7 linked regions of the Homo sapiens genome follow. The protein of the gene in region 6 purifies or fractionates together with the protein of the main gene of each other region. This does not show direct contact. Each region holds a gene or a part of one and is shown on either strand. Other genes may lie near its edges. The genes, in order: NUDT19, TEFM, STARD7, MTRES1, PRORP, RCC1L and THEM5.

The links.
Region 1: the proteins of RCC1L (region 6) and NUDT19 purify together in Homo sapiens (affinity purification with mass spectrometry, with the first as the bait; one large-scale study listed by BioGRID). This does not show direct contact.
Region 2: the proteins of RCC1L (region 6) and TEFM purify together in Homo sapiens (affinity purification with mass spectrometry, with the first as the bait; one study listed by BioGRID). This does not show direct contact.
Region 3: the proteins of RCC1L (region 6) and STARD7 purify together in Homo sapiens (affinity purification with mass spectrometry; one large-scale study listed by BioGRID and IntAct). This does not show direct contact.
Region 4: the proteins of RCC1L (region 6) and MTRES1 purify together in Homo sapiens (affinity purification with mass spectrometry; one large-scale study listed by BioGRID and IntAct). This does not show direct contact.
Region 5: the proteins of RCC1L (region 6) and PRORP purify together in Homo sapiens (affinity purification with mass spectrometry; one large-scale study listed by BioGRID and IntAct). This does not show direct contact.
Region 7: the proteins of RCC1L (region 6) and THEM5 purify together in Homo sapiens (co-immunoprecipitation; one large-scale study listed by IntAct). This does not show direct contact.

The regions. Positions count from the first base shown.
Region 1 is NC_000019.10:32,708,494-32,711,859, forward strand, and holds part of NUDT19 (acyl-coenzyme A diphosphatase NUDT19 precursor), read left to right. Parts: intron 1-691; coding exon 692-899; intron 900-3,258; coding exon 3,259-3,366. UniProt on the Homo sapiens protein: Fatty acyl-coenzyme A (CoA) diphosphatase that hydrolyzes fatty acyl-CoA to yield acyl-4'-phosphopantetheine and adenosine 3',5'-bisphosphate.
Region 2 is NC_000017.11:30,903,267-30,907,899, reverse strand, and holds the start of TEFM (transcription elongation factor, mitochondrial), read left to right. Parts: upstream 1-1,661; 5' UTR 1,662-1,701; coding exon 1,702-1,732; intron 1,733-3,370; coding exon 3,371-3,834; intron 3,835-4,633. UniProt on the Homo sapiens protein: Transcription elongation factor which increases mitochondrial RNA polymerase processivity. Regulates transcription of the mitochondrial genome, including genes important for the oxidative phosphorylation machinery.
Region 3 is NC_000002.12:96,187,803-96,191,932, reverse strand, and holds part of STARD7 (stAR-related lipid transfer protein 7, mitochondrial isoform 1 precursor), read left to right. Parts: intron 1-4,130. UniProt on the Homo sapiens protein: May play a protective role in mucosal tissues by preventing exaggerated allergic responses.
Region 4 is NC_000006.12:107,026,770-107,031,389, forward strand, and holds the start of MTRES1 (mitochondrial transcription rescue factor 1), read left to right. Parts: upstream 1-1,429; 5' UTR 1,430-1,502; exon of another isoform or gene 1,503-2,077; coding exon of another isoform or gene 2,078-2,155; intron 2,156-3,240; exon of another isoform or gene 3,241-3,335; coding exon of another isoform or gene 3,336-3,338; intron 3,339-4,620. UniProt on the Homo sapiens protein: Mitochondrial RNA-binding protein involved in mitochondrial transcription regulation. Functions as a protective factor to maintain proper mitochondrial RNA level during stress.
Region 5 is NC_000014.9:35,128,893-35,133,022, forward strand, and holds part of PRORP (mitochondrial ribonuclease P catalytic subunit isoform 1 precursor), read left to right. Parts: intron 1-4,130.
Region 6 is NC_000007.14:75,066,834-75,070,963, forward strand, and holds part of RCC1L (RCC1-like G exchanging factor-like protein), read right to left. Parts: intron 3,937-4,130; coding exon 3,807-3,936; intron 1-3,806. UniProt on the Homo sapiens protein: Guanine nucleotide exchange factor (GEF) for mitochondrial dynamin-related GTPase OPA1. Activates OPA1, by exchanging bound GDP for free GTP, and drives OPA1 and MFN1-dependent mitochondrial fusion. Plays an essential role in mitochondrial ribosome biogenesis.
Region 7 is NC_000001.11:151,850,544-151,855,468, reverse strand, and holds the start of THEM5 (acyl-coenzyme A thioesterase THEM5), read left to right. Parts: upstream 1-1,756; 5' UTR 1,757-1,903; coding exon 1,904-2,026; intron 2,027-3,009; coding exon 3,010-3,211; intron 3,212-3,933; exon of another isoform or gene 3,934-4,277; coding exon 4,278-4,416; exon of another isoform or gene 4,417-4,925. UniProt on the Homo sapiens protein: Has acyl-CoA thioesterase activity towards long-chain (C16 and C18) fatty acyl-CoA substrates, with a preference for linoleoyl-CoA and other unsaturated long-chain fatty acid-CoA esters.

The sequences.
Region 1 (3,366 bases), on a different chromosome or scaffold from region 6:
ATGTCTATGGAAAGAAGGCTCAGGAAGGAGAGGAGGTTGTAGAATGAAGCCACTGAAGTTTTCCGGGCAAATACTGCCTGGCTGAAACCCTACCAAGTTATTACTCTCTTGACTGTAGGCTGAGTCATGCCAGGTGACTTCCTGAAAGCTGCTGTTGCTCCTGATGCTTCACCGCCGTTGTACCATGTGGCACACATCACCACATCACAAAGCATTTTGGTTGCTGAAGTCCCCATAGGGCCTAGGAGAGCTTTGTGGTGTCCATCATTATATCCTCAGGATCTAGCCAAGTACCCATTTCCCAGAGGAATGAACAGGCACCAAATTCTCCATCTACTGTGATGAGTTTACCCTTCAGAGTCTTTCTTCTTTCAGCAGGGACCGGAACCACCTTACCCTCTCTGCATCTCCCACCTCTTATGCTGAACAGCTCTCCCAGGTCAAGCCTCAGGGGTCTGCCCTGGTTTATTTACTAGTTCTGAGGATCAGTGTCCTAATAAGCAACCTCTTAAGAGGATCAACCCAGCTTTCTTCACTGAATCTTTTCATGTTGTCTTTGAGGGATCTCACAGGGCGCATTAATGAATTCATTTTACACATTCAGTTCTACCTTAGGTACTGGTCTGACTGTCTCAAGTCTCACATTGTCTATGGCATAAACCTTAAGAAACCCTGCCTTTGTCTTTCACAGTGGTCATCTCCATCAGAGGCAACTGAAAGTTTCTTATCAAAAGAAATTTGGTTGCCACCCCCACAGTTCTACGAAGTGAGAAGACTTGCAAACTTTGCCTCTCTCTCTGACTTGCACAAATTTTGTTTGGGTCGTGCATTAGAAGGACTGGAAAGGTGGCTGCCGATCATCTTGTTAACTGCTGATGGGATGGTCCATCTTTTACCAGGTAAACCAGTGAAGCATCGGTGCTTTTGTTAGTATTCACATTCAGTGCCCTGGGCTGCATGGCTGTATTGCCCAACGTAGAGACAGGAATTACAGTCTGTGTTTTGTAATCTACAGGGTATTAGCTAAGTAAGATCAAAGCCTATAAAATATCCATATTATTATAACCAGAAATTCTGCATAATGTCATATACATACACATACATTTATATTAATATATTTCCTAGACATTGACAAAGGTCTTTCTCATATAATTTCTCACTTTTTTTTTTTTTTTCTGAGACAGTTTCCCTCTGTCACCCAGGCTGGAGTGCAGTGGCACAATCTTGGCTCACTGCAACCTCCACCTCCCAGGTTCAAGCAATTCTCTGCCTCAGCCTCCCAAGAAGCTGGGATTACAGGTGCCCACCACTGTGCCCGGCTAATCTTTGTATTTTTTTTTTAGTAGATACGGGGTTTCACCATCTTGGCCAGGCTGGTCTTGAACTCTTGACCTTGTGATCCACCCGCCTTGGCCTCCCAAAGTGCTGGGATTACAGTCATGAGCCACCATGCCTGGCTGATTTCTCACTTTTTTGCATTTTAAGTTTGAATTACGAGAACTCGTAAGTTGTCATCTAATTTGAATTAGGGAGCTTTTTTTTTGAGACAGAGTTTTGCTCTTGTCACCCAGGCTGGAGTGCAATCTGGGCTCACTGCAACCTTTGCCTCCTGGGTTCAAGCGATACTTCTGCCTCAGCCTCCCGAGTAGCTGGAATTACAGGCATGTGCCACCACGCCTGGCTAATTTTTTTGTATTATTAGTAGAGACAGGGTTTCACCATGTTGGCCAGGCTGGTCTTGAACTCCTGACCTCAGGTGATCCGCCCGCCTCAGCCTCCCCAAATTCTGGGATTATAGGCATGAGCCACTGTGCCCAGCCAACTTTGTTTTTTTTTTTCAGTTGGACATAATTTCAATTGAAATTATGAATTATGAAATTATGAAGAAAATAAAGTAAAATGTTAACTCTATCTCAACTGAAAATACAAAAAAAAAAAAAAAAAACAAATTAGCCAGGCATGGTGGCACACACCTGTAATCCCAGCTGCTCAGGAGGCTGAGGCAGGAGAATCACTTGAACCCAGGAGGTAGAGGTTGCAGTGAGCCAAGATCATGCCACTGCACTCTAACCTGGGCGACAGAGCGACACTCTCTGTCAAAAACAAAACAAAACAAAAGGCTGGGCGCGGTGGCTCACACGTGTAATCTCAGCACTTTGGGAGGCTGAGGCGGGTGGATCACCTAAGGGCGAGAGTTCGAGACCGGCCTGACCAACATGGAGAAATCCCGTCTCTACTAATAATACAAAATTAGCTGGGCATGGGGGCGCATGCCTATAATCCCAGCTACTTGGGAGGCTGAGGCAGGAGAATCACTTGAACCCAGGAGGCAGAGGTTGTGGTGAGCTGAGATTGCGCCATTGCACTCCAGCCTGGGCAACAAGAGCGAAACTCCATCTCAAAAAAAAAAAAGATTTATTACTCAACCTACAGTGGGAAAATTTAGCAGTTTTGATGGAATTTCTCTAAATTAACCTGAAGATGATAAGAACAGCCCACTTTGAAACATCAAAAGTATATGAATATCAAGGCCAATCTTAATATCAGTATTGAATAGAATAAAGAGAGTCATGAACTGGTATAATAGTTACAGTTCACAGTGGAAACATACCAGTCACAGATGTTTATGGGCCCAAAGAAAACTCTTGGCTGGGGTGTTGTAAGGGGATATTAAAAACACAAGAAAGAGGACAGGCGCAGTAGTTCACGCCTGTAATCCCAGCACTTTGGGAGGCCGAGGTGGGTGAATCATTTGAGGTCAGGAGTTTGAGACCAGCCTGGTAAACATGGCGAAACCTGTCTCTACTAACAATACAAAAATTAACCAGGCGTGGTGGCAGACACCTGTGATCCCAGTTACTCGGGAGGCTGAGGCATGAGAATTGCTTGAGCCCAAGAGGTGGAGGTTGCAATGAGCCGAGATCGCGCCACTGCACTCTAGCCTGGGCAACAGAGTGAGACTCCATCTCAAAAAACAGATAAAAAAACACAATAAAGAAATTGAGGTAAGCTCATAGAATTAGATTAGTTAACAACTATCTCAGTTCCAAACATATTAAATAGATCAAAATAAATACTGATTTAACAACTATCTCAGTTCCAAACATATGAAATAGATAAAAATACTGATTTGTATTTCATTAGTATATTGGAGTGATTTATAAAATAATACTCGATGGAATTAAAATTTTATACTTTCTGCCATGGTGAAAAATAATTTTGTATTTAAAAATAAAATCAGATTTTTTCCTTTTTCAGGTGATGAGCTATATTTAGAAGATTCAGACTTTTTGGAAAATCTTATGTCTACTGAAAAAAAGACTGAGGAAATCATGAAGGAAGGCAAGCAGTTTCACCGGATAGTGA
Region 2 (4,633 bases), on a different chromosome or scaffold from region 6:
AACTGCCAAGGTTTCTAGACTTCCTATGAGCAATTTTTTTTCTTTTTTTGAGACAAGGTCTGGCTCTGTCCCCCACGCTGGAGTGTGGTGACACGATCTCCACTCACTGCAACCTCTACCTCCCGGGCTCAGGTGATTCTCCCACCTCAGCCTCCTGAGTAGCTGGGATAACAGGCGTGCTCCACCACACCCGGCTAATTTTTTCGTAGAGACGGGGTTTCGCCATGTTGCCCAGGGTGGTCTGGAACTCAAGAGCTCAAGCGATCCGCCCGTCTCGGCCTCCCAAAGTGCTGGAATTACACTTTGGGAGCCACTGCTCCCGACCAGCACATTTTATTAATACTTATGATTCCCCTACATCCCCACTGCCTTCCAGACACAAACAATCAACCCATTGCTGCCTCATAAAAACGCAAACTCATCACCTTTCCCTCCCTCCTGAATTCCCCGTTTTTCACAAAACTGGCTCCCCATCTTCCAGAAATAATTCTTTTCTTTCCACTCTCCTTACATCTCCTAGGTTCAATTCCTTACGGTTGGCCAGGCGCAGTGGCCCACGCCTGTAATCCCAGCACTTTGGGAGGCCGAGTCGGGCGGATCACCTGAGGTCAGGAGTTCGAGACCAGCCTGGCCAACATGGTGACACCTGTCTCTACTAAAAATACAAAAATTAGCCGGGCGTAGTGGCGCTCGCCTGTAATCTCAGCTACTCGGGAGGCTGAGGCACGAGAATCACTTGAAATCGGGAGGCGGAGTTTGCAGTGAGTCCAGATCGCACCACTGCACTCCAACCTGGGCGACAGAGCAAGACTGTTAAAAAAAAAATTCCTTACGCTTGCCTCTCACCTGGGAAGATACACTCTCTTCGCGACTTCTCATTGCTCCCAGGCTCTTCACCTGCAATCCAGCCTCACATTCGCTATACAGTATATGGCCAATTTTCTAGGAACACTCTCCAGTCTGACTGCAAATCATAAACCTCGGGGACTTCAGGCTTCCTATCTGGTGGAGTATTCAACTGCTCCACCCATTATTCAAGGACCAACTAAATTCGGCGCTACATTCATCTCCCTTTATCCCTTCTAAGAGGAATACCGCTCCAGCGCCAACGCAATCTCCTCCTCCCTCGCCTTTACCTAATCCCTTGCCTGCCCTGTTTCCCCGCTGAGCTCCTCAAACACTTCGCATCTCTCCCCGTTATTCCAGTCTACCTGGTGAAAAGGTTATTTGAGGACCTTGTCTACGCTGCCCCTACCTGATCCCGCTCCCGGCGCCACAGGCTGGGCCCCAACAGGAGCTCCTCAATCTAAGTGTCTAGGAGAAACCCAGGGAGTCTCCACGAAGGAGGCACTTTACCCACTACAGACTAAAACTGGCCTCGGAATCGCCTTCCTGGAGATTCGGCCCAGCGGCTCTCAGGAGTCGGTAGGGGCAAGAACGTTTCCCCGGTGCAGTGGAAGAAGACTGCGGGCCAGCCAGGGACTCGGGATCCGGGGACAGGGCCTCGGCAGGCGCCCGCCTGGAAGCCCGCAGCCCAGACGCGGACGACCCACTGCTCAGCGGGACACACCTCGGGCCTTGCCCCGGAACGCCGCTTGGACAACAACCTTTCCGCCGAGTGCAGGCCGAGCGCTTTTGGGCGCAGCACGCAGGAACCGGAAGTCAATGGAGGAAGACTGGACCTACTGATTCAACTTGGAGATGAGCGGGTCTGTCCTCTTCACGGCGGGAGGTAGGGTGCTTGGAACACTGGGGTGATTTCCCGTCTGTCATTAGCCTCTGACCCTAGAGGCTAATGGAATACGGCGGGAGGTAGGGTGCTTGGAACACTGGGGTGATTTCCCGTCTGTCATTAGCCTCTGACCCTAGAGGCTAATGGAATACGGCTGGAGGTATTCTGGAGGAACCTGGAGTGTTTCCTTCCTCATGTCCCTCATGTCCTAGAGTGTTTCCTTCCTCATGTCCCTTGTTCAGGCCCCTCTCTTGGGGCCCCAGCCTAGCTGACGGGGCAGTTTTCGGAACATTTGTGCTTCCCCGGCCTCAGGGTCCACGGGTGGCTCCTCAGAGTGGGCGGATGGTTCACATTCTCACAGCCGCTTGCTTACCTCTGGCCACATTACTTTCCTGTGGCTGCGATGTTAGAGTGACTTCCCACTGGTTTTACAAAGTTATGCATTGTATGGTGTTTCTCATACTTGCAAAAACGTCATGTAGAAGTCTTGAAAAGTGTACGGAAGAAAGTAAAACTGCCCTTAAATCTATCACTTAGCTGAAACATTTCTTATAAACGTACAAAATTTAATTTTATTTAGTTCCACCAGATGAGATACTAAAATGTGAAAATGGAAGTGAAGACAAAACCCTTTTTTTTTTTTTTTTGAGACGGAGTTTCGCTCTTGTTGCCGAGACTGGAGTGCAATGGTGCGATCTCGGCTCACCGCAACCTCCGCCTTCCGGGCTCAAGCGATTCTCCTGCCTCAGCCTCCCGAGTAGCTGGGATTACAGGCATGTGCCACCACGCCCGGCTAATTTTGTATTATTAGTAGAGACAGGGTTTCTCCATGTTGGTCAGGCTGGTCTCGAACTCCCGACCTCAGGTGATCCGCCCACCTCGGCCTCCCAAAGTGCTGGGATTATAAGCGTGAGTCACCGCGCCCGGCCTAAGACAAACCTTAACAGGAAATATTAGTTACAAAAAGATTCCTCTAAATTAAAAATATCAGAAACTTTAAGCAGTTGGAATAATTATTTCAACTACTTGCTTCCTGATGGGTATAAAATACAATTTTCTAGGTAGTAAAACTTCGGACTGATCCATAAATATCGGGAGACATCTCTCGTGACTTGAAAACAACAAAAGCTCTATTTAAAACTCTATATAATATAGTTTAAAAACTAATCCTCTTTTAAAGATGATTCTCGGGCCGGGCACAGTGGCTCACGCCTGTAATCCCAGCACTTTGGGAGGCTGAGGTGGGCGGATCACGAGGTCAGGAGATGGAGACCATCCTGGCTAACACTGTGAAACCCCGTCTCTACTAAATATACAAAAAATTAGCCGGGCGTGGTGGCAGGCGCCTGTAGTCCCAGCCACCTGGGAGGCTGAGGCAGGAGAATGGCGTGAACCTGGGAGGCGGAGCTTGCAGTGAGCCGAGATCGGCCACTGCACTCCAGCCTGGGCAACAGAGCAAGACTCCGTCTCAAAAAAAAAAAAAAAAGATGATTCTCCAAGACAATTTAATATTGTCCTCTATTAGTTCTTAAATTCCAGGAAAGTATTTGTGACTTTGCAAAGGATCTAGTCAAGCTTGCAACTAACCCCAAAGGAAGTAGGACATCCAACTTATATTTTGCTAAATTTTCCTTTTAGAGAGGTGGAGATGCTTTCTGACCCCGTCGAGGTCATCCCTGTACTGGGCCTTACATAATTTCTGCTGTCGGAAAAAATCCACTACACCTAAGAAAATTACTCCCAATGTTACTTTTTGTGATGAAAATGCAAAGGAGCCCGAAAATGCACTTGACAAGCTCTTCTCTTCAGAACAGCAGGCTTCCATCTTGCATGTGTTGAATACAGCATCTACTAAAGAACTTGAAGCTTTCCGATTGCTTCGTGGAAGAAGGTCCATCAATATCGTAGAGCACAGAGAAAACTTTGGGCCATTTCAGAATTTAGAGAGTTTAATGAATGTGCCCTTGTTTAAGTATAAAAGTACAGTTCAAGTTTGTAACTCCATACTTTGTCCAAAGACTGGACGGGAAAAAAGAAAGTCACCGGAAAACCGGTTCCTGAGAAAGCTCCTCAAACCAGACATAGAAAGAGAAAGACTTAAGGTATATTCTTCATGTCTGCTATACTGCCTAATATTTGAGAACCTACTCTAGAAAGCACTCTTCTGGGCATTGGGTTGGGAAGTGGCTAAGACAGGGTTCTTCAGGTTTAGTTGGCAAGTATATGATCACTACCAAATAATGAGATGTACAGATAGTAAATTGGCAGTTGAGAGGAGAGAAAACAATGGGCTGTGACTGTTGTGGAAAGTTTACTGGAAGAACTCAATTTAGGTCTTAAAAGAGAGATCCTTTGGATGGGAGAGGAGGGCATTGTAGGTAGAAAGAACAGTTGATGCTGAGAAGCAGGTCTAGGCAAGGCTTATTTAAGAGGAGTGTCGTTGGAGATACCAGGCTGTGTCTAAGGGTGATGTTAGGATTAATGAGAAATTAAGGAGCAAAGATAGGTTATGGCCAGTGAGTGACTTTAGAACATTATACCAGTCTTTCCGGCAGAATTTAAAATTATTTTCTGTACCTTTTCTCCTTTAAAAAGCATTTTATCTTGAATCATGCAAGTCTATAGGTAAGATTAAAAAAAAAAAAAAAAAGCGGCTGGCTCACACCTGTAATCCCAGCACTTTGGGAGGCCAAAGCGGGCGGATCACAAGGTCAAGAGATCCAGACAATCCTGGCCAATGTGGTGAAAGCCCATCTCTACTAAAAATACAAAATTTAGCTGGGCATGGTGGCGTGGGCCTGTAGTCCCAGCTACTCGGGAGGCTGAGGCAGGAGAATCTCTTGAACCTGGGAGGCAGAGGTTGCAGTGAGCTGACATCACGCCAGTGCACTCCAGCCTGGC
Region 3 (4,130 bases), on a different chromosome or scaffold from region 6:
TTTGAAAAGAATATTTATTTCAGCCTAATGAGGTGTTTTGTGTTTATTTTTTATCTTTTTAAGCTAAATCTCCACTGAGAGTATAGATATTGATGCTAGTGGCTGCTGGTTTTAGTTCCACTTCACCTTATAATGGCTTTGTTTCTCCCTATTGCTTGTGTTCGATTTAGGGCTATATGGACAGTGTTCTTTAGTGTAGTTTTCTTATTCTCATCAAGTTGTTTTATTTATACCACCTCAAGGACTTGAGTTGGTCCTTGTAAAAAAAAACAAAAAAAAAAGTACACTGGATAGAGAGGAAAGCAGGCAGGGCACTAGGGTTAGAAGACATGATTCAAGCAAAGACAAAGATAGGAATGAGCCAGGTATGCACTGAGAGACTCACATGCTTAGAGAGGAAAGTAGAGGTTAGGGAGAAGTGATAAATTGCATTGACTGTGTACAGAGGGTACTCGAAAACCATGTAGCTGAGTTTGGATTTGCCAAATGGGAATTAGATCTTTGAGCCAAGGTAGGGGGTTTTTATCATGGAAAATTTGAAATAGATACAAAAGATACAGAAGTAGAAGAGTATAATGAACCCCCTGTATCCATCCCCAGCTCCAGTTATCAACTTATGGCCAAAATTGTTTTATCTATACCCTTTCCCATTTCCTTTCTCACTCCCCTGATTATTTTGAAGCAAATTCTAGCTTTACTGTAGGAGAACCCAGTTCTTCTATTATATATTTCAGTATTTATCTCAAATAAGGATTTTGGGTTTTTTTGGAAACAGGGTCTCCCACTGTTACCCAGGCTAGTGTGCAGTGGTACAATCACAACTCACTGCAGCCTTGACTTCCTGGGCTCAGGTGATCCTCCTGCCTCAGCCTCCTGAGGAGCTGGGATTATAGGCGTGTGCCAACATGTCAGGCTAATTTTTTGTATTTTTTGTAGAGATGGGGTCTCACCATGCTGCGCAGGCTGGTCTCAAACTCCTGGACTCAAGCAATCCTCCCACCTCAGCCTCCCAAAATGCTGGGATTAGAGGCGTGAGCCACTGTGCCCAGCCCAAGTAAGAAATTTGTAAAACAGCTCTGGGCCAGGCAGCATGGAGAGACCCGGTCTCTACAAAAAATAAAAATTAGCCAGGCATGGTGATATGTGCCTGTAGTCCCAGCTGCTTGGGAAGCTGAGGTTGGGAGAATCACTTGAGTCCAGGAGGTCAAGGCTGCATTAAGCCGTGTTTGTGCCACTGCATGCCAGCCTGGGCAACAGTTTGAGACCCTTCTCAAAAAAAAAATAAAAAATAAAAAAGCCAGGCGCAGTGGCTCACGCCTGTAATCCCAGCACTTTGGGAGGCCGAGGCATGTAGATAACTTGAGGTCAGGATTTTGAGACCAGCCTGGCCAACATGGTGAAACCCTGTCTCTACTAAAAGTACAAAAATTATCCAGGCATTGTGGCACGTGTCTGTAATCCCAGCCACTTGGGAGGCTGAGGCAGGAGAGAATGGCTTGAACCTGGGAGGCAGAGGTTGCAGTGAGCCAAGATCGTGCCGCTGCACCCCAGCGTGGGCGACACAGTGAGACTCGTCTCAAAAAAAAAAAAAAAAAAAGACACAGACTTAAATGTACTTAGTTTTTAAATATATTATCCTTATTGATGCTCAAATTGATTCCAGTTTTGGTCATTGGGAGTCTTCTTGTTGGCTCAAGCCCCTTTGACATGACCCCAGAAGCTGTCTTGCTTTCTGGTGTTACAAGATGTTGTAGGTTCATCTTGTATATTTTTAGTTTTACACCTGGAAATTAACATTTCTTTAGGGAGTCCTGGTTCCTTTTAGTGGAAAATGGCATTTAAATACCACAATTTGGCTGCTAAGAATATTCATAGCTATTGGGTCGTTTATTGTTTGTAGGCCTTTTCAGAAGACAGAACCAAGTAATACATTTTACTGGTATGTTTATTTTTAAGATAAAATAAATCCTAAGTATATACTAATACTTTTAATTCAAATTCAGGACTATGGAGTTTTTATTTCTATCTTCTATCTTTTGTCTTTCCCTGTACTGTAGAACTCAATTCCCAGGAACCCTAACACAACTACTAATTTGTTGAAATACACAGCCTCAGAATAACAATACAGTAAGATCACCAATAATACGAAGAATAAAATTTTGTGGTCTTTTTGTCTTCAGGATGTGCATACTGTGTACAAAATATTGATTTTTTTTTTTTTTTTTTGGAGACGGAGTCTCGTTCTGTTGTGCAGGCTGGAGTGCAGTGGTGCGATCTTGGCTCACTTGCAACCTCCACCTGCCAGGTTCAAGCAATTCTCCTGCTTCAGCCTCCCAAGTAGCTGGGATTACAGATGTGCACCACCACGCCTAGCTAATTTTTGTATTTTTATTAGAGACAGGGCTTCACCATGTTGGCCAGGCTGGTCTCGAACTCCTGACTTCAAGTGATCCGCCCGCCTCGGCCTTTCTGAGTGCTGGGATTACAGGCATGAGCCACCGTGCCCAGCCCCCAGCTAAGATTTATGACAGTGTCAGAGTAAAGATATGCAGCTGGATCATAAGAGAAAAAGGCACAGGAGGAGTCTGGAGGAGTCCATGTGAAGCTTCCTTCCCCAGCAATGAAATGTAGCAATATGTGTGCAATGTTTCTGTTTAGGAAGGCCATTAGAAATTTAACACTCTGGCTGAGCACGGTAGCTCATGCCTGTAATCGCAGCACTTTGGGAGGCTGAGGCAGGAGGATCTCTTTAGCCAAGGAGTTTGAGATCAGCCTGGGCAACACAGGGAAGACCCAGTCTCTGCAAAAAATAAAAAATTAGTTGTGGTGGTAGTGCATGCCTGTAGTCCCTGCTACACAGGAGGTTGAGGTGGGATGACTGCTTGAGCCCAGGAGGTGGAGGCTGTACTGAGTCGAGATTGCATCACTGCACTCCAGACTGTGCAACAGAGTGAGACCTTGTCTCAAAAAAAAGAAAAAAAAAACACCCAAAGTGTTTTTTTTGTTTTTTTGTTTTTGTTTGTTTTGTTTTGTTTTTCTGAGATGAGTTTCGCTCTTGTTGCCCAGGCTGGAGTGCGATGGCGTGATCTTGGCTCACTGCAACCTCCGCCTCCCGGGTTCAAGCAGTTCTCTTGCCTCAGCCTCCCGAGTAGCTGGGATTACTGGTGTGTGCCACCACACCTGGCTAGTTTTTTTTTTTCTTTGTATTTTCAGTAGAGACAGGGTTTTGCCATGTTGGCCAGGGTGGTCTCAAACTCCTGACCTCAGGTGATCCATCTGCCTCAGCCTCCCAAAGTGCTGAGATTACAGACGTGAGCCACCACACCCAGCCCAAAGTGTTTTTTAAAGACGGAGTCTTGGCTGGGTGCAGTGGCACACGCTTGTAATCCCAGCACTTTGGGAGGCCAAGGTGGGTGGATCACTTGAGGTCGGGAGTTCGAGACCAGCCTGACCAAGATGGAGAAGCCCCGTTTCTACTGAAAATACAAAATTAGCTGGGCATGGTGGTGCATGCCTGTAATCTCAGCTACTGGGGAGGCTGAGGCAGGAGAATCACTTGAACTCAGGAGGTGGAGGTTGTGGTGAGCCGAGATTGTGCCATTGCCCTCCATCCTGGGCAACAAGAACGAAACTCTGTCTCAAAAAAAAAAAAAAAAAAAAAAAAAAGTCTTGGTCTGTCACCCAGGCTGGAGTACAGTGGCTCAATCTGTGCTCACTGCAACCTCTGCCTCCCGGTTCAAACGATTCTCCTGCCTCAGACTCCCAAGTAACTGGGATTACAGGCGTGTACCACCACGCCCAGCTAATTTTTTAACTTTCAGTAGAGATGGGATTTCACCATGTTGGCCAGGCTGGTCTCGAACTCTGGTCCTCAAGTAATCTGCCTGCCTTGGGCTCCCAAAGTGCTGGGATTATAAGGCATGAGCCACCACGCCCAGCCAACACCCAATTTATTTATTTATTTATTTATTTTTTGAGACGGAGTCTCGCTCTGTTTCCCAGGCTGGAATGCAGTGGCTAGATCTTGGCTCACTGCAACCTCTGCCTCCCGGGTTCAAGCAATTCTTGTGCCTCAGCCTCCCGAGTAGCTGGGACTACAGGTGTGTGCCAGTATGGCCGGTTAATTTTTG
Region 4 (4,620 bases), on a different chromosome or scaffold from region 6:
CCTGTAGTCCCAACTACTAAGGAGGCTGAGGCAGGAGAATCGCTTGAACCCGAGAGTGAAGGTTGCAGTGAGCAGAGATCATGCCATTGCACACCAGCCTGGGGGCCAGAGCAGGCCTCATTCTCAAAAACAAAAAAACAAAACAAAACAAAAGAAAAAACAGGGAAGAAGATTAAGTGGCAAGTGAGGTAGGTGAAACCAATGGGGTATCCTATAACTCAAGTAAGTTGAGGAATGAGACCAGACCTTTGGATTTACATTGCAGAGGTCATCTGTGACTTTGACTAGAAGTTTTGTTAGAATGTTGCAGGGTGACATCTTGTTTGGTGTATGAGTCAGAGTTCTCCACAGACAGACCTAATGAGAGAGGGATGGATGGATGGATGGATGGATGGATGGACGAATGGATGGATAGTTGGTTGGGAGGGAAAGGGGAATTGGCTCACGTGTAAATTGCGTTGGTCTTGAAAAGATGTTTCCTTAAACTGCGAGTCTGACGTATTTGCACATTTTTCTGGAAACAACGCCTATATCTCTTGGAGATGTTCAAAGAGGGCGGGCTCGGTGGCTTACACCTGTAATCCCAGCACTTTAAGAGGCTGAGGCTGGAAGATCGCTTCTCTTGAGTCCCAGCCTGGGCAATATGGCGAAACCCCATCTCTACAAACAAAACAAAACAAAACAAAAATTAGCAGGCCGTGGTGGCACACACCTGGAGTCCCAGGTACTGGGGAGGCTGAGGTGGGGAGAACAGCTTGAGCCTGGGTAGCAGAGGTTGCAGTGAGCCGAGATCGCACCATTGCACTCCGGGCAACAGAGTGAGACCCTGTCAAAAAAAAAAATGTTCAAAGGGGTTAGTGGTCCCAGAGAAAGGATCACTTCATTAATAATTAAGATGATTAGCCGGTCATGGTGGCTCACGCCTGTAGTCCCAGCTACTTAGGAGACTGAGGAACGACAATCGCTTGAACCCGGGAGGCGGAGGTCGCAGTGAGCTGAGATTACGCCGCTGCACTCCAGCCTGGGCAAGAGTGAGACTCGGTTTCAAAAAAAAAAAAAAAAGAAAAAAGAATTAAGATGGCCGGGCGCGGTGGCTCACGCCTGTAATCCCAGCACTTTGGGAGGCCGAGGAGAGCGGATCACGAGGGCGGGAGATCGAGACCATCCTGGCTAAAACGGTGAAACCCTGTCTCTGCTAAAAACACAAAAAAATTAGCCGGGCGTGGTGGTGGGCGCCTGTAGTCCCAGCTACTCAGGAGGCTGAGGCAGGAGAATGGCGTGAACCCGGGAGAATGGTGTGCCCCGAGCCTACTTCCCGCGCAGTCCTCCAAGACGCGGCCTCCAGCAGGGGTCGCTGCTTCGCTGCCGCCCTGGCCTCGCGCCCCGCCCGACCCGCTCTCACTGCGCCGGCGCCGGCGGAAGGGGCGGGGCGCAGATAGGGGTAGCCTGGAGGCCTGCAGTCCGCGCGGCCGCGGGGAGGGACGAGAGGGCCTGACGTACAGGTGAGTGCGCCTCTGCTGGCGCGCCGCGCCGGGCCCCCTGCCCGCGCCCCCTGTCACTTCGCCTCTCCGCCCCGCCCACGCTCCCGCCGGGTCTCCCCGTGAGTGTCCCGTGTCCTGCCAGCCTCGGGACGCCCCGCGAGCTCAGGGCTGCGCAGGGACTGTGGTAATTGAGCGCGGCGAAGCCTTCCGTTCCTGCCTCCTGTCGCTCCTGCTGGCTCCGAATGCAGACTGCGAACCCGGGGACGCAGTTGTCCATTTCCTTTGACCTTGGGGACCCAGGAAGGTGCACTGCCCGCGGGGGTGGGGAGGGAGCGAGAGGAATCCGACCCTGTCTCAGCCCACAGCCTCCGAGGTCTCCAAGTAAAGGGAAGGATCTTTAGCTGCATTAGACTTCAAAGCGTTTAGACCAGTTTCTCCATCTTACGGAGCGGTGAACGGGCTCAGGAATGTGGAGCGTTTCCTGGCGTCAAGCAGGTCAAAGTCAGCGCTGCTTTTTTTACAGACACTGCTTTTCTTACAGTCTTCGGTTAGTTCAGATTGTATACCTCTCCTGAAGATGTCACCCAAAACCTCCTATGGGATTCTGCCGTGATCATCTCTCCACTCATCCCACACCAACGCCAAAGAGATCTTTTAAAATGAACTTCCATCAGGTCACTTCCCAGGGTCCATCATTGCGTGTTCTTTTCCTGATTCATTCGAATGCACCCGTCCTCCTGATCAATTTTTATTCCACAGGGTGTTGTTTTGTTTTGTTTTGTTTTGTTTTTTTGAGACGGAGTCTTGCTCTGTCGCCCAGGCTGGAGTGCAATGGCGGGATCTCGGCTCACTGCAAGCTCCGCCTCCCAGGTTCACGCCATTCTCCTGCCTCAGCCTCCCCAGCAGCTGGGACTACAGGCGCACACCGCCACACCCGGCTATTTTTTTTTTTTTTGAGACGCAGTCTCGCTCTGTCGCCCAGGCTGGAGTGCAGTGGCGCGATCTCTGCTCACTGCAAGCTCCGCCTCCCGGGTTCACGCCATTCTCCCGCCTCAGCCTCCCGAGTAGCTGGGACTACAGGCGCCTGCCACCACGCCCGGCTAATTTTTTGTATTTTTAGTAGAGACGGGGTTTCACCGTGTTAGCCAGGATGGTCTCGATTTCCTGACTTCCTGATCCGCACGCCTAAGCCTCCGACAGTGCTGGGATTACAGGCGTGAGCCACCGCGCCCGGCCTGTTTTGTTGTTTTTTTTTTTGACACTCGCTCTGTCGCCGAGGCTAGAATGCACTGGTGTGAACTCGGCTCACTGCAGCCTCCCCCTCCCAGGTTCAAGCGATTCTTCAGCCTCAGCCTCCCAAATAGCTGTGACTACAGGTGTGCACCACCACGCTTGGCTAATTTTTGTATTTTTAGTAGAGACGAGGTTTCACCATGTTGACCAGGCTGGTCTTGAACTCCTGGCCTCAAGTGATCCGCCCGCCTCAGCCTCCCCAAGTACTGGAATTACAGGCATGAGCCACCGCGCCCATACTATTTTTATTTTAGATCTCACTGTGTTGCCCAGGCTGATCTCAAACTCTTGGACACAAGCGAGTCTCCTGCCTTGGCCTCCCAAAGTGCTGGGATTATAGGCGTGAGCCACCTGCCTGACCTCATCTTGCCCTCTCAATCCCCCTTACCCTGCTCCACTTTCTTCCCCCAGTGCATTAACCACCAGCTATCATATAATTTACAGGGTGTTTTTTTTTTTGTCTACCTGTTTCCCCTACTAGACTATAAACTCTACAAGAATAGGAATCTTCGTATTTTTTTCCTCTGCTGAATTCCTAGTGCCCAGATTAGTGCTTGGCACATGGTAAGTGCTTAATTAAGGGGAGGATGCCAGTGTTGCTGAAGCTGAATTTGCAAGAGTCAAATTGGCAGATGAGGTTGGAGAGGAAATGGGGGTTGAGGGAGCACCAGATCCTATAGAGCCTTTAGACCATCGTAGAGACTTTGCTGTTCTCTGAGTGCTTTGGTAGGGATTTGAGGAAAGGAGTGACATCGTATGAATGACTTTATTATGTGCCCACGTGGAGGTGTCAAATAGGCAGCTATTGTGTTGCAGGTCCCCAGGTTCATTGATTCACTAAGAGGACTCAAAAGACTCAGCACGTAGTCATACTCACAGCTGTGATTTATTATAGCAAAAGGATACAAAGCAAAATAAGCAAAGGGAAAAGATGCATGGGACACAGTCTGGAGGAAACCCGGTGCAGTCTTCTAAGAGTCCTCTCCTAGTGGAGTCACATGGGGTATGCTTAATTCTTGCAGCATCAAATTATGACAAGACGTGAGAGATCTATCAGGAAAGCTTGTAGAGCTCATTTTTCCAATAAAAAGTCACATAGGCACTGTCTGCCTAGAATGTGCCAAAATTTCCGCCGCCCAGAAAAAAAGCAGGTGTTTAGAATCACATTGTACAGTTTCCAGCACAGTGAGCCACTCTTATCCAGGTGGGAATTGTGGGAACCCTCGTGAAGTTCAAGTTCTGAGACACTAGCCAAGGGCCAACTTTGCAAGCAGGCATTCTAAGGATAGCAGTCTCAGGCCTGTTATGTTAACTCGTTTCTGCACAGATGTACGAGTCTGGAATTTGGGAGAAAGTTCTGGAATGGGGATATAGATTAGGGTGTGGTTGGCATATAGGTGGTATTTAAAGCCACAGAAATGATTGATGTCTTGATAATGCATTTGTAAGAACTAATTGGGTACATTTAAGAGCTGAGCTGGATAAAGTGAATGTAGAAGAGAAGAGGACCAAAGATAGAGCCCTGGGCCGCTCCAACTTTAAGATATCAGGGAGGGCCGGGCACAGTGGCTCAGGCCTGTAATCCTAGCACTTTGGGAGGCTGAGGTGGGCGGGTCACTTGAGGTCAGGATTTCCAGACCAGCCTGGCCAAGGTGGTGAAACCCTGTGTCTACTAAAAATATAAAAAGTGGCCGGGTGTGGTGGTGGGCGCCTGTAATCCCAGCTACTCTGGAGGCTGAGGTGGGAGACTATGGCTTGAACTGGGGAGGCAGAGGTTGCAGTGAGCCAAGATCGCGCCACCCACTGCATTCCAGCCTGGGCAACAGAGGAAGACCCTGTCTCAAAA
Region 5 (4,130 bases), on a different chromosome or scaffold from region 6:
TAGTTCTTTAAGACGCATATTTGGCCGGGCGCGATGGCTCATGCCTGTAATCCCAGCACTTTGGGAGACCAAGGCTGGTGGATCACCTGAGGTCAGGAGTTCGAGACCGGCCTGGCTAACATAGTGAAACCCCGTTTCTACTAAAAATACAAAAAAAAAAAAAAAATTAGCTGGGCATGGCGGCGCACGCTGGTAATCCCAGCTACTCGTGAGGTTGAGGCAGGAGAATCGCTTGAACCCAGGAGGCGGAGGTTGAAGTGAGCCGAGATCACGCCATTGCACTCCAGCTTGGGCAACAAGAGTGAAACTCCATCTCAAAAAAAAAAGATGCATATTTAGGTTGTTTATTTTAAGTTTTTCTTCTGTTTTGATATAGGCACTTATAGCTGCTTTTGTTATATCCCACCGTGCCTAGATACATTTAATGTTATTATTGATAAGTAAGGACTTAGTCCTGCCATTTTGTTTTCTGGTTGTTTTGTGGTCTTATTTTTTCCTTCCTTTCTTCCCTTTAGTGAAGATGATTTTCTCTGGTGATATAATTTAGTTTCTTGCTTTTTATTTTTTGTGTATCTGTTGTATTTTTCTTTTTTTTTTTTTGAGATGGAGTATTGCTCTGTCGCCCAGGCTAGAGTGCCGTGGTGCGATCTTGGCTCGCTGCATCCTCCACCTCCTGGGTTCAGGAGATTCTCCTGCCTCAGCCTCTTGAGTAACTGGAATTACAGGCGCACACCACCATGCCCAGCAAATTTTTTTTTTTGTATTTTTAGTACAGACAGGGTTTCACCATGTTGGTCAGGCTGGCCTCGAACTCCTGACCTCATGATCTGCCTTCCTCAGCCTCCCAAAGTGCTGGGATTATAGGCGTAAGCCACCGTGCCCAGCCTTGTATGTTTTTTGATTGGAGGTTACCATGAGGCTCACTAATACTTAACTATAGCCTATTATTTTAAGCTGATAATAATTTAACACTGTATAAACAAACAAGCAAAAAGAAAACTAATAAAAACTCTACACCTTTACTTTGTCTCCCTGCTTTTTAACTTTTTATTGTTTCTATTTATATCTTACTGTACTATCAATGTCTTGAAAAGTTATAGTCGTTATTATTTTTGATTGGTTCATTGTTTAGACTTTCTTTTTTTTTTTTTTTTTTGAGACGGAGTCTCGCTCTGTTGCCTAGGCTGGGGTGCAGTGGCACAATCTCAGCTCACTGCAGCCTCTGCCCCCCAGGTTCAAGTGATTCTTCTGCCTCAGCCTCCCGAGTAGCTGGGACTACAGGTGCCCGCCACCATGCCCGGCTAATTTTTTTGTATTTTTTAGTTGAGACGGGGCTTCACCATGTTAACCAGGATGGTCTTGATCTCCTGACCTCATGATTTGCCCGCCTCGGCCTCCCAAACTGCTGGGATTACAGGCGTAAGGCACTGCCTCACTAAACTCATTGTTTAGTCTTTCTAAAGATAAGAGTAGTTTTAGTTTACACACCATAGTTACAGTGTTATAATATACTATGTCTTTTTGTGTACTTATTATTAACAGTGAGTTATGTACCCTCAGATGATTTCTTATTGCTCATTAATGTCCTTTTCTTTTTTTTTTTCATTGAGATGGAGTCTCACTCTGTCGCCCAGGTTGGAATGGAGTGGCACGATCTCAGCTCACTCCAACCTCCGCCCCCACTGGGTTCAAGTGATTCTTGAGTCTTACCCTCCCAAGTAGCTAGGATTACAGGTACCCTCCACCAGACCCGGCTAATTTTTGTATTTTTAGTAGAGACAGGGTTTCACCATGTTGGCCAGGCTGGTTTCGAACTCCCAACCTTACTTTATCCAGCTGCGTCGGCCTCCCAAAATGCTGGGATTACAGGTGTGAGCTACTGCACCCGGCCTATGTCCTTTTCTTTCTGCCATTTTTTTTTTTTAAATATAGAGACAGGGTCTTACTATGCTGCCCAGGCTGGTCTCAAACTCTTGGGCTCAAGTGATCTTCCCACCTTGGCCTCCCAAAGTGCTGGAATTATAGGCGTGAGTCACCAGAGTAACGGTCCTTTTCTTCTTCTTCTTTTTTTTTGAGGCAGTCACTCTGTCGCCCAGGCTGGAGTGCAATGGCGCGATCTCAGCTTACTGCAACCTCCGCCTCCTGGGTTCAAGTGATTCTCCTGCCTCAGCCTCTGAATAGCTAGGATTATAGGCGTGCACCACCAGACCTGGCTAGTTTTTGTATTTTTAATAGAGACGGGGTTTCACCATGTTGACCAGGCTGGTCTTGAACTCCTGACCTCAGGTGATCCACCCACCTCGGCCTCCCAAAGTGCTGGAATTACAGGCATGAGCCACCACAGCTGGCCATCCTTTTCTTTCTGATTGAAGTACTCCTTAGCATTTATTGTAGGATAGGTCTGGTGTTGATGTAATCTCTCAGCTTTTGTTTGTCTGGGAAAGTCTTTATTTCTCCTTCATGTCTGAAGGATATTTTCACTGCATATACTATTCTGGGGTAAAAGTGTTTTTCCTTCAGCACTTTAAATATGTCATGCCATTCTTTCCTGGCCTGTAAGGTTTCCACTGAAAAGTCTGCTGCCAGATGTATTTTAGCTCCATTGTATGTTATTTGTTTTTTTCTCTAGTTGCTTTTTGGTTTTTTTTTTTTTTGAGACAGAGTCTTGCTCTGTCACCCAGGCTGGAGTGCAGTGGTGCTATTTCGGCTCACTGCAACCTCCACCTCCTGGGTTCAAGCGATTCTCCTTCTTCAGCCTTCCGAGTAGCTGGGATTACAGGCATCTGCCACCATACCCAGCTAATTTTTATATTTTTAGTAGAGACAGGGTTTCACTATGTTAGCCAGGCTGATCTCGAACTCCTGACCTCAGGTGATTCGCCTGCCTCAGCCTCCCAAAGTGCTGGGATTATAGATAGGTGTGAGCCACCACACCTAGCCAATCCTTTCTTTTTTTCTTTTTTTGAGAAGAAATCTCACTCTTGTCCCCTAGGCTGGAGTGCAGTGGTGCTATTTTGGCTCACTGCAACCTCCGCCTCCCAGGTTCAAGTGATTCTCCTGCCTCAGCCTCCCAAGTAGCTGGGATTACAGGCACCTGCCACCACGCCTGGCTAATTTTTGTATTTTTAGTAGCGACGGGTTTCACCATGTTGGCCAGGCTGGTCTCGAACTCCTGACCTGAGGTGATCCGTCCGCCTCGGCCTCCGAAAGTGCTGGAATTACAGGCATGAGCCACTGCGCCCAGCCCCAATCCTTTCTTTATCCGTTGAAGGTTGGATTATTCAACTGGGTGTGGTGGCTCACACTTGTAATCCCAGCACTTTGGGAGGCTGAGGTGGGTGGATCAGCTGGGGTCAGGAGTTCGAGACCAGCCTGGCCAACGTGGTGAAACCCCGTCTCTACAAAATATATAAAAATTAGCCAGGCGTGGTGGCGGGCCTCTGTAATTCCAGTTACGTAGGAGGCTGAGGCAGGAGAATCGTTTGAACCTGGGAGCCGGAGGTTGCGGTGAGCCAAGGTCACACTACTGCACTCCAGCCTGGGCAACAAGAGCAAATCTCCATCTCAAAAAAATAAAAAACAAGAAAAAAAAGAAAGTTGGATTATTCGTCCAGGCATTGTGGCTCACGCCTGTAATCCCAGCACTTTGGGAGGCCGAGGTGGGTGTGAATCACCTGAGTTTAGGAGTTTAAGACCAGCCTGGCCAACATGGTGAAACCCTGTCTCTACTAAAAATAAAAAAAAATTAGCTGGAAATGGTGGTGCGTGCCTGTAATCCTACCTACTCGGGAGGCTGAAGCAGGGGAATCATTTGAACCCGTGAAGCGGAGGTTGTAGTGAGCCAAGATTGCGCCACAGTACTCCAGCCTGGGCGACAGAGTGAGACTCCATCAAAAAAAAAAAAAAAAGGGAAGAAGGAAAGGAAAGGAAAGCAAAGCAAAGGAAAGGGAAGGAAGAAGGAAGAAGGAAGGAAAGTAAGTTTGATCATTCAATGCTTTGAGTTAGTGTTTTTTTGTTTTGTTTTGTTTTGTTTTGTTTTGTTTTTTTGAGACGGAGTGTTGTTCTGTTGCCCAGGCTGGAGTGCAATGGCATGATCTTGGCTCACTGCAACCTCTGCCTCCCAGGTTCAA
Region 6 (4,130 bases):
CCACTGGAAATCATACTGTCCAACTCCACGCTACTACACTGGAAAAAAGAGAGTCGGAGGTAGGAAAGACTCATCAAGACAGGTAAGTTAGGCGCAGAGCAAGGACCAGAAGCCCAACTCCCAGCCCATGGCATGGGCTGTCTCTATTACATAATGCGGGTTCCAGAAAAGCATACTTGGTCTTCTGGCTGGGCGCAGTGGCTCATGCCTGTAATCCCAGCACTTTGGGAGGCCGAAGCGGGCAGATCACCTGAGGTCAGGAGTTCGAGACTAGCCTGGCCAAAATGGTGAACCCCATCTCTATTTAAAATACAAAAATTAGCCGGGCATGGTGGCGGGCGCCTCTAATCCCAGCTACTCGGGAGGCTGAGGCAGAAGAACTGCTTGAACCCGGAAGGCGGAGGTTGCAGTGAGCTGAGATTGCGCCATTGCACTTCAGCCTGGGGGACAAGAGCGAGACTTCATCTGGAAAAAAAAAAAAAATGCATACTTCGTCTTCTTATTAAAGAAATCTTGGCCGGGCAGTGGCTCATGCCTGTAATCCCAGCGCTTTGGGAGGCCAAGGCAGGCGGATCACTTGAGGTCAGGAGTTTGATACCCACCTGGCCAACAAGGTGAAACCCCCGTCTCTACTAAAAATACAAAATTAGCCAGACGTGATGGTGGACGCCTGTAGTCCCAGCTACTTAGGAGGCTGAGGCAGGAGAACTGCTTGAACCCAGGAGGCGGAGGTTGCCAGTGAGCCAAGATTGCACCACTGCACTCCAGCCTTCTGGGAGACAGAGCGAGACACTGTTTTAAAAAAAAAATACAAAAATACAAAAATCAGCCAAGCATCATGGTGCATGCCTGTTGGTCCCAGCTACTTGGGAGGCTGAGGTGGGAGGATCACTTCCAGCTACTTTGGAGGCTGAGATGGGAGGATCACTTGGGCCAGGGAGGTTAAGGCTGCAGTGAGCAGTGATCATGACACTGCACTCCAGCATGGGTGACAGGGCAAGACCCTGTCTCCCCTTACCCCCCCAAAAAATTAAACTGTTGGAATTTGCTTCAAATTTATTGAGGGGGAAGGTGGGAAAAATGAAGAAAACGAGACTGGCATGAGTTGATGATGCCTGAAGCTGGTGATGCCACATCATACTACTCTGCACACTTCTGTAAGTCTAAAATTGCTCTGAATAAAAGGTATAAAAAATGTAACGCGGGCCGGGCACGGTGGGTCACGCCTGTAATCCCACCACTTTGGGAGGCCGAGGCAGGTGGATCACCTGAGGTCGGGAGCTTGAGACCAGCCTGACCAACGTGGAGAAACCCCATCTCTACTAAAAATACAAAATTAGCCAGGCATGGTGGCACATGCCTGTAAATCCCAGCTACCTGGAAAGCTGAGGCAAGCGAATTGCTTAAATCCAGGAGGAGGAGGCTGCGGTCAGCCAAGATCACGCCATTGCACTCCAGCCTGGGCAACGAGAGTGAAACTCTGACTCAAAAAAAAAAAAAAAAAAGTAATGTAACATCTTACAGCTAATAAAGACTTCTATACTGACTTATAAAAGACATCTGATATATAGGTCGGGCATGGTGGCTCACACCTGTAATCCCAGCACTCTGGGAGGCCAAGGCAGGTGGACCACTTGAGGTCAGGAGTTCAACACCAACCTGGCCAACGTGGTGAAACCCCCGTCTCTACTAAAATCCCCAAATTAGCCAGGTGTGATGGCGGGCGCCTGTAGTACCAGCTACTCAGGAGGCCGAGGCAACAGAATCACCTGAACCCAGGAGGTGGAGGTTGCAGTGAGCTGAGATCATGCCACTGCACTCCAGCCTGGGCGACAGCAAGACTCCATCTCAAACAAACAAACAAAAAAGATATCTGATACAAAATAAATGAAAAAAGACAGAAAACAAAATATATGCTATGTATGTAAAAATGTATTTGTCTGTGAACAAGGGAACAGGAAAAAACAAAAATGAAAGGTTTGTCCAGTATGTACTTCTGGGTAATTTCCTATGTTATTTTATATTTATTTATTTATTTATCTTTTATTTATTTTGAGACGGAGTCTTGCCCTGTCGCCCAGGCTGGAGGGCAGTGGTGCGATCTCGGCTCACTGCAACCTCTGCCTCCCAGTTCAAGCGATTCTCCTGCCCCAGCCTCCCGAATAGCTGGGATTACAGGCGCGCGCCTCCATGCCCAGCTAATTTTTGCATTTTTAGTAGAGACGGGGTTTCACCATGTTGGTCAGGCTGGTCTCAAACTTCTGATCTCGTGATCCACCCGCCTCGGCCTCCCAAAGTGCTGGGATTACAGGCGTGAGCCACTGCGCCTGGCATTTCCTCTCTATTTTAGGAACTCTTTCTTTTTTCTTTTTTTTAAGAGACATGATCTTGCTCTGTTGCCCAGGCTGGAGTGCGGTGGCGCAATCACCGCTCACTGCAGCCTCAAACTCCTGGGCTCAAGCAATCCTCCTACCTCAGCCTCTGGAGTAACTAGGATTATAGGTGCATGCCACCATGCTCAGCTAATTCTTTTTCGTTTTTCATTTCTTTTTTTTAGAGACAGAGTCTCGCTATGTTGCCCAGCGTGGTCTGGAACTCCAGGCCTCAAGCAATCCCTCCCATCTCGGCCTCCCAAAGTGCTGGGATTACAGGCGTGAGCCCCTGTGCCTGGCCAAGGAAATATTTCTTACTGTTCTCACAGTAATTTTTAGCTAATGTCTACTTTTCTGTTTGTTTGTTTGTTTGTTTAGGACAGTCTCACTCTGTCACCCAAGCTGGAGTGTAGTGGCATGATCTCGACTCACTGCAACCTCCACCTCCCAGGTTCAAGAGATTCTTGTGCCTCAGCCTCCGAAGTAGCTGGGACTATACAGGTGCGTGCCACCATGCCCGGCTAATTTTTTATATTTTTAGTAGAGACGGGGTTTCACCATGTTGGCCAGGCTGGTCTCGAACTCCTGGCCTCAAGTGATCTGCCCTCCTCGGCTTCCCAAAGTGCTGGGATTACAGGCTGCCCTCCTCGGCTTCCCAAAGTGCTGGGACTACAGGCGTGAGGCACCACGCCCAGCCAGGCTAATGTCTACTTTTTAAAATGCCATTATAAGTTATTTCTAACATTTTTACAATCCAAGGCTCAAACATTTGGAATAAAGCCTCCATGTTAACGATTTCAATGCTTTTTCCCTCCAAAACATATTCTAGGCACTGCAGAGTACTTCACGCTGTCTGTCTCCAAGCCAGGAAAAAAAGGTCATCTCTTTTAGGCCACAAAAGAACATCTTTACTTATCTGCAAATGCCAGGTGCTTGCCTTTTGCCTGAGGGTTCAACATTGTTACCAAAGAGGCTAAAAAATAACCTAGCCCAGATGGTTTCAAACAACATCCCTTTAAGTCTTCCTCTATTTCTTTGCTATTTCTTTGTTTATGTAACCATGTTCTTGAACACCAAAGGGAGGGCTGGGCGCTGTGCCTCATGCCTGTAATCACAGCACTTTGGGAGGCTGAGGAGGGTGGATCACCTGAGCTCAGGAGTTCGAGACCAGCCTGGTGAACATAGTGAAACCCCAACTCTACTAAAAATGCAAAAATTAGGCAGGCATGGTGGCATGTGCCTGTAATCCCAGCTACTCGGGAGGCTGAGGCAGGAGAATCACTTGAACCCGGGAGGTGGAGGTTGCAGTGAGCCAGGATCTCGCCACTGCACTCTAGCCTGGCAACAGACTGAGACTCTGTCTCAAAAAAAATACAAAAAAAGAGCTTTCTCAGACCAATCCCGGCAAAGAGGAGACAAGGTAGGGATGCTCACTTTTATCTTTCCGGCTCCTGTGAAATCCAAGCTGAGAATCTTTGTTGAGTCCCATCCCCCAGACTTTCGTAACATCCGCAGTCTTAGAGGACAGCAGTGTGAATCCATAGCCGCAAGCAGCAGATGAAATCTGAAAAGCAGTTCCCACAAAGCATGAACTGATTTATAATGTCAAGTTTGTTCAGTAGTAAATGACAGGTTATTTATCAAATCCAAGAACACATACTATTTACGGGGGTTTTGTTTTTGTTTTTGAGACAGTCTCACTCTGTTGCCCAGGCTGGAGTGCAGTGGCGCAATCTCGGCTCACTGCAATCTCCATCT
Region 7 (4,925 bases), on a different chromosome or scaffold from region 6:
AGGCAGAGGTTGCAGTGAGCCGAGATGGTGCCACTGCACTCCTGGGCAATAAGAGTGAGACTCTGACAAAATAACAACAACAAAAAAAAATGGTTCCCCCAGTCCTTGAGGAAGTTTAATTCAAACCTTTGCAGGAGGTGAGGGGAAATATTTATATTCTAGTCTTCTTCTAGGGCAACCAAATACAGAGGGTGAACCAAATCTTTTAAATTTCCGCATTAAATCAGTTTCATCTTTTGGAACCTGCCAAAATGTCATAATCATCACAACTATTATTATCGTCATCATCACTGTTATGATTCCACCTTTGCACAGTTCTGATTTTTTTTTTTTTAAGACAAGGTCTCACTCGGCCTCCCAAAATGCTGAGATTACAGCCTTGAGCCACTGCGCGAGGACTGATCTTTAGAACATGCTTTTATTTTAGTCAATTTAAAACTGAGACTTTTAATTGAAAATTGGCAGTTTAAATTCAATAGAAGACACACCACCACCAAATCCCACTGCCTTGCAGATGTTGGCTGAGTGTCCCTTCCCACTCAACAAAGCCTCACTGCCGCGCCCACCTCACTCCCAGCACTGCCTGCTGACATGAGCCACTCCCTGGGCACGGGGTTCCCAAAACATGAGAGTATCCCTGCCAAGCTGTTTCCTCCCAAATTATTTTCTGCCCTCCCTGTCAAGCCCTCCCCCACCTCCAACTCCTATCCCCAGCCAGAGACCAGCAGGTGAAACTCTCCTGTGCTAACCCTTGTCCGGGATATAAGAAGAGGTGTTGGCCGGGTGCGGTGGCTCACGCCTGTAATCCCAGCACTTTGGGAGGTCACCTGAGGTCAGGAGTTCAAGACCAGCCTGGCTAACATGGCAAAACCCCATCTCTACTAAAAAAAATATACAAAATTTAGCTGGGTGTGGTGGTGTGTGTCTGTAATCCCAGCTACTCAGGAGGCTGAGGCAGGAGAATCACTTGAACCCAGGAGGCGGAGGTTGCAGTGAGCCGAGATCACGCCATTGCACACCAGCCTGGGCGACAAGATTGAAACTCCGTCTCACCAAAAAAAAAAAAAAAAAAAAAAAAGAGGTGTCTAAGGCTGTGAGTTGGTTTTCTTTTTTTTTATTTTTTTATTTTTATTTTTTTGAGACGGAGTCTCGCTCAGTCGCCCAGGCTGGAGTGCGGTGGCTAGATCTCAGCTCACTGCAAGCTCCACCTCCCAGGTTCACGCCATTCTCCTGCCTCAGCCCCCTGCGTAGCTGGGACTACCGGCACCCGCCACCACGCCCGGCTAATTTTTTGTATTTTTTTTAGTAGAGACGGGGTTTCACCGTGTTAGCCAGGATGGTCTCGATCTCCTAACCTCGTAATCCGCCGCCTCGGCCTCCCAAAGTGCTGGGATTACAGGCGTGAGCCACCGCACCCGGCCTGTGAGTTGGTTTTCTGAGTCACAAAATCATACCAGAGTTTTCAGAGTCCGGTATACACTGCAGAGCACATACCAAGAACACTCCACCAGCACCCTCCAATCAAGGGACAGGCTTCCCTTATCCTTCTGGAAATATTCTTGGATTCTCCCTCAGAACCCCCAGGCAGCTCTCCAAGGCTCTATATACCCCATACTATTTGTTTATGTACTTGTTTACTCCTTTTGCAACTCAAGCCAGTCCTGCTGCCTTTTCATGCCCAAGCAGCATCTGTCCCTCCCCAAGCACTGGGTGGGGCTCCTAGACCAGCTAAAGGCGCCGAGCATCTGTGGGTGTTGCAGCACACCAGCCCAGCCTCGCCTAGCTCTCTGAAAGAAAGCCTGCAACAGAAGGGAGAGAAGCGGCCCCAAGTGCAGCTGAAAGCACTCCTTGGGAGTCAGCCAAGACCCTCCATCCAAGCAGGGCTGGATCCTTGCACTTGGCCATGATAAGGAGATGCTTCCAGGTGGCAGCAAGACTTGGCCACCACAGAGGCCTTCTTGAGGCCCCCCGTATCCTGCCCAGACTCAACCCTGCCTCAGCATTTGGATCCTCCACAGACTCCATGGTGAGTTCCCAGCTCAGCCAGATGGGCAGTGTTTTCCCAGGAGCCTAGGGCTTAAGGAGCACCCCAAATCTCCTCTTCCCAGCCCATGGCCAGGGCAGGTGGGCAGTGTTCGGAGGAGCTATTTGATTTGGCAAAGAGAAAGTGCTCTGGGATACCAAGTTGCCCCCATTCAAAACTAAAACTACCAGGAGACCTGCATCTGGCTCTGTGTCTTGTGTGGCCACCAACAAATGACTTTCCTCCTGTGGGACTCAGACTACTGCAGCAAAGCTGGGGTATCCCCAGACAGAGGACCCCATCTGTGGCATTGGCAAGCAGCTCACATGCTGTCTACAGTTGTGACTGGTGTATGAGCAGGTGACGCTACAGAGGACTTCCTTACGTCACACAGATGGGCACATAGTCTGTGCCCCAGCCATGGCACCACACCTCTGTGGGGGCCCAAATGTGTTTCAAAGGAGCCACCCTGCCCAGGCAGGCCCACAGCAGTGGGCAGAGCTGGAGTAGCCCCTGAGGTGGGGGTTGCTAGAATGGTCCTCAACAACTGTGACCCTGCCCTGCAGAGGAGACAGCATCTAGTGCGACCACCAGCTCTCACAGTCACATGCTTGGCAACCTTGGCCGTATTCCCTCAGTTTCCCCATCTGTACAGTGAGGCTAATATGAGCAGTTGTCAACTTTAAAGAACTGCTCACATGTTTTAAGCAGAACAAGGGTAAGGCACCACATCGAGCAGCATGCCCATCATCTCTGGCCCCACTCCCTGCCCGCCCTTCCCTTGCTCTTTAGCATCCTTATGCCCCGTCACCCATAGGGGTCCGCAGCCCCCCTGCAAGGAATATGGGCCCTTTCCCTTGGATCGATACTCTGGCAGAAGGGATTGAGAAGCCCCAGCACCCAGGAACAGCTGTTTAGAGGTCCCGAGCCCAGGCAGCAGCCCCCCTCCAGGATGCTGTCTAGTCATTCTGATTTTTCCTGCCCAGTTCTCAAGATTCTTGCCAGAGAAGACAGACTTGAAGGATTATGCTCTTCCCAATGCCAGCTGGTGTTCGGACATGCTGAGCCTGTACCAAGAATTTCTGGAGAAGACTAAGTCTAGCGGCTGGATCAAGCTGCCCTCCTTCAAGTCCAACAGAGACCACATCCGGGGACTCAAGCTCCCATCTGGACTGGCAGTTTCCTCAGGTAAGGACAGGACCATGAGTACACACACCCCAGCCGCCCTTCCCTGTGTTCTAAGACTGAGAAGCAACTTCACAGACCGCCTTCCAGTTCTCAGCGAGTTCTTCCTGCTGTCCAACTCCACCCCTGATGCTGCAGCCCCAGGCAACAGGCGGCGGGTGTCCTCTCAGGTCTCCAGCTCCCCTCCTCCCATCTGAAGCAGCACACCCTGGTGGGCCCACCTTCGCTCCCAGCCAAGCATGTCCCCACTGGAGGACAGCCAGCCCAGCTCCTGCCCCGACTTCTCACTGACTGCCCCTCCCTAACTATCAAGCCTCATCCCAAGCCTTCCGCCCCAACCCCATGAAAGCCCTTGGACCCCACACCCCTTCCACTGAGGCCCTGCACATCATCCCTGCTGTGCGGGGTCTGGAGCAGCACTCCTGAAACACCTAATGATCCTAATGGATCCTAATGATAGAGCTTCCACCTTCTTGTGTGTGTGTGTGCACTCGTGTGTGCACGCATGTGTATCTCCCTGTCTCTCTCACTCATATATGTTGTCTTCCTGCCTAGTGATGAAGGAGTGGTACAGGGGACAGACTACCCTTGGGTTTATGGCACAAACAAAGCAGGAATACCAACATAATTTTTTTTCAAAGAATTTGATACTTCCAAAAAAGGATGTAGTAGTGGTAGCTGTCTTGGAAAAAAAAAATCAGAACTTTGATGGACTTTTCTGCTCTTATTTTACTGTTTACTATTATTCTTTTGAATTATATGTGAGTTACATGAGTAATTACATTTTCAATTTTCAATGCTTATGGTCTCTTAAAGTCTTGCCCTGGCCCTGATCCTATCTCCATTCTCAGCCAGGGCACTTCCTGCATGTTTCTGCCCTAGACAGAAAGGCTCTGTGAGGACAGCAACTGTGCCTCTGCTCCCAGAGGGAAGGCTCCCTGGGGGTGGACCTGGTGTCCTCTGGTTTTCTCTCCTTAATCTTGTACCAGAGGCAAGACTCAACCAAATGGTGCTGCATCCTGACCATACCCTCCCTTCTCCGGCTGCAACACTGCCTATCTCTCCCCAGACAAAGGTGACTGTCGCATCTTCACCAGGTGCATCCAAGTGGAAGGACAAGGCTTTGAGTATGTCATCTTTTTCCAGCCAACCCAGAAGAAGTCGGTCTGTCTTTTCCAACCAGGCTCCTACCTGGAGGGGCCCCCAGGGTAAGGTCACTGGTAGGACCTTGGCTGCCTCCTGGGCTTGGCTCAGCAGGGCAGGTTCAGCACCCACCAGGCTGGCCCTGGAGTCTCTATCTTTCTCTAAGGGGTGAGGAAGGGAGTGTGGGGCACTAGGCTTCAGCCTCACAATACCAGGCCTGGAAGGACACACAGGGTTATCTGGCCTAATCCCCAGTGTGCAGATATGGGCTTCTCATCAAAGTCTCAAAATTTTCTGGACAAAAGACCTGAGAGGCCACTTTGAGAAGAATGTGGTACACTTGGAAGAGGGCAAGATCCGGAATCTAGACTCTGACTTGGTGTCCTGCCTGGCTGCTGCTGGCTGTGGGACTCTGAGCAAGCAATTGACCCCTGGTCTTTAGTCTTCTTACCTGAAACCTGGGGCAATAATATCTACCTGCCAGGGTGACCAGAGATATGATATTATGGGCCTATGTGTGCGTGCTCATGAACCGTAAAGCACAGTACAGCTATCAGACACTTCTACCCAAAAC